2 separate regions of the Homo sapiens genome follow, and region 2 is linked to region 1. Evidence: fine-mapped expression QTL. Tissue or cell type: whole blood. Region 1 holds a variant in brackets; the other region holds the start of a gene. All regions are shown on one strand. Distances are between the middles of the regions.

What was found. PIP is the estimated chance that this variant, and not a neighbour inherited with it, causes the effect.
Region 2: WASHC1 starts here. The variant in region 1 is fine-mapped to the expression of WASHC1 in whole blood (TOPMed, PIP above 0.99).

The regions. Positions count from the first base shown.
Region 1 is chr9:49,369-52,055 of GRCh38, forward strand. No RefSeq gene overlaps it. Among named protein-coding and RNA genes, the nearest start is that of FAM138C, 15 kb to the left of the region's middle. The variant A/G (reference allele first, on the strand shown) is at 1,433.
Region 2 is chr9:28,369-31,055 of GRCh38, forward strand. It overlaps WASHC1 (WASH complex subunit 1), which reads right to left and starts at 1,088. Exons shown (of 11, transcript NM_001378090.1): 1 at 944-1,088. It overlaps MIR1302-9HG (MIR1302-9 host gene), which reads left to right and starts at 1,291. Exons shown (of 3, transcript NR_197460.1): 1 at 1,291-1,514; 2 at 1,974-2,077; 3 at 2,390-2,523. MIR1302-9 (microRNA 1302-9) reads left to right here and starts at 1,776; the gene lies at 1,776-1,913.

The DNA.
Region 1 (2,687 bases):
TACTTGAGCCCAGAAATTCCAGACCAGCCTGAGAATTTGGCAAAACTCTGTCTCTACAAAAAATACAAAAATTAGCCAAGTTTGGTGGCATGTGCCTGTAGTACCAGCTACTTGGGAGGCTGAGGTGGAAGAATAGCTTGAGTCTGGGAGGTCAAGGCTGCAATGAGCTGTGATCGCACCACTGCACTCAAGCCTGGGTGGTAGAGTAAGACCCTGTCTCAAAAAAAAAAAAAAAAAAGAAAAATCACTAAGCAAAATAAGACATGTGAAGGATCATGTCAAAGGTAAGAAAAATTAGGGGAACATTAAAAGCTTTCTTCCCAAGCCACTAAATCAACTTGACTAACAAAATTACCACTTGATTTAGCATTAGAAAATTACATTACATATCAAACATAAACCCATTAATCAAATACTAAAGAAATTTCTGAGTTAAATGGTATAATGTTAGCTTATGCCAGAGCTGACCTTGAAAGATTGTTCAAATATGGCTCAGTGTGACTGAAAGTTCTGTGTGAATATGTTTTTGGAAAGATCCAACAGCAACACCTTAGTGTATGTTTTTGAAATAAAATGTATCTGAGTAGCAGCAAAGTTATCCATTTCTTCTAGGTCCTCCAATTTGTTGGCATAAAATTGTTCATAATAATCCCTTATGAGCATTTTTATTTCTGAGGTATCTATTGCAATGTCTCCACTTTCATTTCTGATTTTATTTGAGTCTGCTTTTTTTAGTGAATCTAGCTAGGAGTTTGTAGATTTTATTTTTTCAAAGAACCAACTTTTGATTTTATTTATATTTTCTATAGTTTTACTATACTACATTTTGTTTGCTTTTGTTCTGATCTTCATTATTTCCTTCCTTTTGCTCACTTTGGGTTTAGTTTGTTCTTTCTTTAGCTCCCTGGGGCATAGTGTTAGTCTACTTATTTAGATCTTTTTCCTTTTTTAATCTAGGCATTTATTGCTATAAACTTCTCTCTTAGAACTGACTTTGCTGCATACTGTAGGTTTTGATACATTGTGTTTCCATTGTCATTAATCTCAAAATATTTTTTAATTTCCCTCTTGATTTCTTCTTTGACCCGTTAGTTCATCATAAGCATGTTGTTTAGTTTCCACATATTTGTAAATTTTCCAAGATTCCTCCCGTTATTGATTTTTAGCTTCACACCATTGTGGTTGGAAACAATACTAGAAGTGATTTCAACCTTTTTGAATTTGTTAAGGTTTATTTTGTGGCCTAACATATGGTCTATCCTGGAGAATGTTCTATGTATGCTAGAGAAGAATGTATATTCTGCTGTTGTTGGATGAATGTAGGTCTGGTAGGTCCATATGGTCTGAAGTATAGTTCAAATTTAGTGTTGTCTTGTTAATTTTTTGTCTGGTTGATCTCTCCATTGTTGCAAGTGGAGTACTGAAGTCCCCT[A/G]TTAGTGTTATATTGCTGTATATTTCTTCCTTCATGTCCACTAATATTTGCTTTACATATTTAAGTGCTTCAATTTTGGATGCATATATGTTTACAATTGTTATGTCCTCTTGATAAGATGACCTCTTTATCATTAAATCATGACCTTCTTTGTCTCTTGGAACAGCTTTTTACTGGAAGTCTGTTTTATCTGCTATAAGTATAGGCATCCCTGCTCTCTTTTGGTAACTGTCTGTTTTCATGGAATATCTCCTTCTATCCCTTTACTTTCAGTATATGCCTATTCTTAAAGTTTAAAAATGGGTCTCTTGTAGGCAGCATCTAGTTGGATCTTGTTGTTGATCCACTCAGCCATTCTATATCTTTTGATTGGACAGTTTAACCCATGTACCAGCAAGGTTATTATTGATAGTAAAAGACTTACTCCTGCCATTTTGCTAATTGTTTTCTGGTTACTTTGTAGATAATTTGTTCTCTTCTTCCTCTATTGTTGTCTACCTTTGTGGTTTGGTGGTTTAGTTTTCTGCTTTGTGGTTACAATATTGTTTTTTAAATATTCAACATGAATACACTTTCTTGTTTGGATAACGTGTAAAACGTCTACAAGGAGGGATAGATAATAAGTTTTCCCTTCAGAATGCACTGCTTTGCCTGGGATGAGGAATAATTTATAATGGTAACTGTTGCTGGTTAAAATTTGGCTCCTACCCACATTCATGCAAACTCAGCATTCTAGATTAAAAGAGATTTAAGAGACTTGCCAAGCAAATGCATGGCATCCTTAGATGTATCCTGATTTGAATAAAACAGCTATAAATAATAATATTTTGGGGATTATTGAAAAATTTGACTATAGATTAGTTTTCAGGTGATATTGGAGAATTAATGTTATTATTGTTAGGTATGTTAGCACGGTCATGCAGCAACGTGTCTTTCTTTTTAAGAGATGCATACAAAAATATTTGGGTGTGAAATGTTCTCGTGCTATAATTTGCTTTAAAATTCTTCAGAAAAAAAAAGATAAGCAAAATAGAAAAACAAGATAATGGGTACATGTTATCTATTTCTTATTCTCCCTATTTTTTTGTGTGTTCAATTTTTAAAAGAAATTTACTCCATACATATATCCCACCCCCTCCACTAAGGACCCCCAAACTATAAATTGCTGTGAATATAAGAAAAAGTGAAACAATTCTATGATTTTGAGAGAAAGTCAACACTGTAGGAAAAAGAGAGCCCAGGATTTGGGCTAAAA
Region 2 (2,687 bases), 21 kb before region 1:
TCTATTTTTACAAATAAGAAAACCCAGGCACAAAGGGGTTGATTAGCAATTATCTTTTGAAAAGCCTGTAGTTGCTCATCTGAAGAAGTGACGGACCACCTCTTATTTAGTGGACAGACAGTAACTAGTTGAGAAGACAGGGGATTTTGTTGGCGGAAAAAAAATTTTATCAAAAGTCGTCTTCTATCAGGGAGTTTTATGAGAAACCCTAGCTCCTCAGTTCCACAGTGGGTAACTGTAATTCATTCTAGGTCTGCGATATTTCCTGCCTATCCATTTTGTTAACTCTTCAATGCATTCCACAAATACCTAAGTATTCTTTAATAATGGTGGGTTTTTTTTTTTTTTTGCATCTATGAAGTTTTTTCAAATTCTTTTTAAGTGACAAAACTTGTACATGTGTATCGCTCAATATTTCTAGTCGACAGCACTGCTTTCGAGAATGTAAACCGTGCACTCCCAGGAAAATGCAGACACAGCACGCCTCTTTGGGACCGCGGTTTATACTTTCGAAGTGCTCGGAGCCCTTCCTCCAGACCGTTCTCCCACACCCCGCTCCAGGGTCTCTCCCGGAGTTACAAGCCTCGCTGTAGGCCCCGGGAACCCAAAGCGGTGTCAGAGAAGTGGGGTCCCCTACGAGGGACCAGGAGCTCCGGGCGGGCAGCAGCTGCGGAAGAGCCGCGCGAGGCTTCCCAGAACCCGGCAGGGGCGGGAAGACGCAGGAGTGGGGAGGCGGAACCGGGACCCCGCAGAGCCCGGGTCCCTGCGCCCCACAAGCCTTGGCTTCCCTGCTAGGGCCGGGCAAGGCCGGGTGCAGGGCGCGGCTCCAGGGAGGAAGCTCCGGGGCGAGCCCAAGACGCCTCCCCGAGCGCGGCTCCAGGACCCCGTCGACCCGGAGCGCTGTCCTGTCGGGCCGAGTCGCGGGCCTGGGCACGGAACTCACGCTCACTCCGAGCTCCCGACGTGCACACGGCTCCCATCCGTTGTCTTCCGAGCGTCAGGCCGCCCCTACCCGTGCTTTCTGCTCTGCAGACCCTCTTCCTAGACCTCCGTCCTTTGTCCCATCGCTGCCTTCCCCTCAAGCTCAGGGCCAAGCTGTCCGCCAACCTCGGCTCCTCCGGGCAGCCCTCGCCCGGGGTGCGCCCCGGGGCAGGACCCCCAGCCCACGCCCAGGGCCCGCCCCTGCCCTCCAGCCCTACGCCTTGACCCGCTTTCCTGCGTCTCTCAGCCTACCTGACCTTGTCTTTACCTCTGTGGGCAGCTCCCTTGTGATCTGCTTAGTTCCCACCCCCCTTTAAGAATTCAATAGAGAAGCCAGACGCAAAACTACAGATATCGTATGAGTCCAGTTTTGTGAAGTGCCTAGAATAGTCAAAATTCACAGAGACAGAAGCAGTGGTCGCCAGGAATGGGGAAGCAAGGCGGAGTTGGGCAGCTCGTGTTCAATGGGTAGAGTTTCAGGCTGGGGTGATGGAAGGGTGCTGGAAATGAGTGGTAGTGATGGCGGCACAACGGTGTGAATCTACTTAATCCCACTGAACTGTATGCTGAAAAATGGTTTAGACGGTGAATTTTAGGTTATGTATGTTTTACCACAATTTTTAAAAAGCTAGTGAAAAGCTGGTAAAAAGAAAGAAAAGAGGCTTTTTTAAAAAGTTAAATATATAAAAAGAGCATCATCAGTCCAAAGTCCAGCAGTTGTCCCTCCTGGAATCCGTTGGCTTGCCTCCGGCATTTTTGGCCCTTGCCTTTTAGGGTTGCCAGATTAAAAGACAGGATGCCCAGCTAGTTTGAATTTTAGATAAACAACGAATAATTTCGTAGCATAAATATGTCCCAAGCTTAGTTTGGGACATACTTATGCTAAAAAACATTATTGGTTGTTTATCTGAGATTCAGAATTAAGCATTTTATATTTTATTTGCTGCCTCTGGCCACCCTACTCTCTTCCTAACACTCTCTCCCTCTCCCAGTTTTGTCCGCCTTCCCTGCCTCCTCTTCTGGGGGAGTTAGATCGAGTTGTAACAAGAACATGCCACTGTCTCGCTGGCTGCAGCGTGTGGTCCCCTTACCAGAGGTAAAGAAGAGATGGATCTCCACTCATGTTGTAGACAGAATGTTTATGTCCTCTCCAAATGCTTATGTTGAAACCCTAACCCCTAATGTGATGGTATGTGGAGATGGGCCTTTGGTAGGTAATTACGGTTAGATGAGGTCATGGGGTGGGGCCCTCATTATAGATCTGGTAAGAAAAGAGAGCATTGTCTCTGTGTCTCCCTCTCTCTCTCTCTCTCTCTCTCTCTCTCATTTCTCTCTATCTCATTTCTCTCTCTCTCTCTATCTCATTTTTCTCTCTCTCTCTTTCTCTCCTCTGTCTTTTCCCACCAAGTGAGGATGCGAAGAGAAGGTGGCTGTCTGCAAACCAGGAAGAGAGCCCTCACCAGGAACCTGTCCAGCTGCCACCTTGAACTTGGACTTCCAAGCCTCCAGAACTGTGAGGGATAAATGTATGATTTTAAAGTCGCCCAGTGTGTGGTATTTTGTTTTGACTAATACAACCTGAAAACATTTTCCCCTCACTCCACCTGAGCAATATCTGAGTGGCTTAAGGTACTCAGGACACAACAAAGGAGAAATGTCCCATGCACAACGTGCACCCATGCCTGGGTAAAGCAGCCTGGCACAGA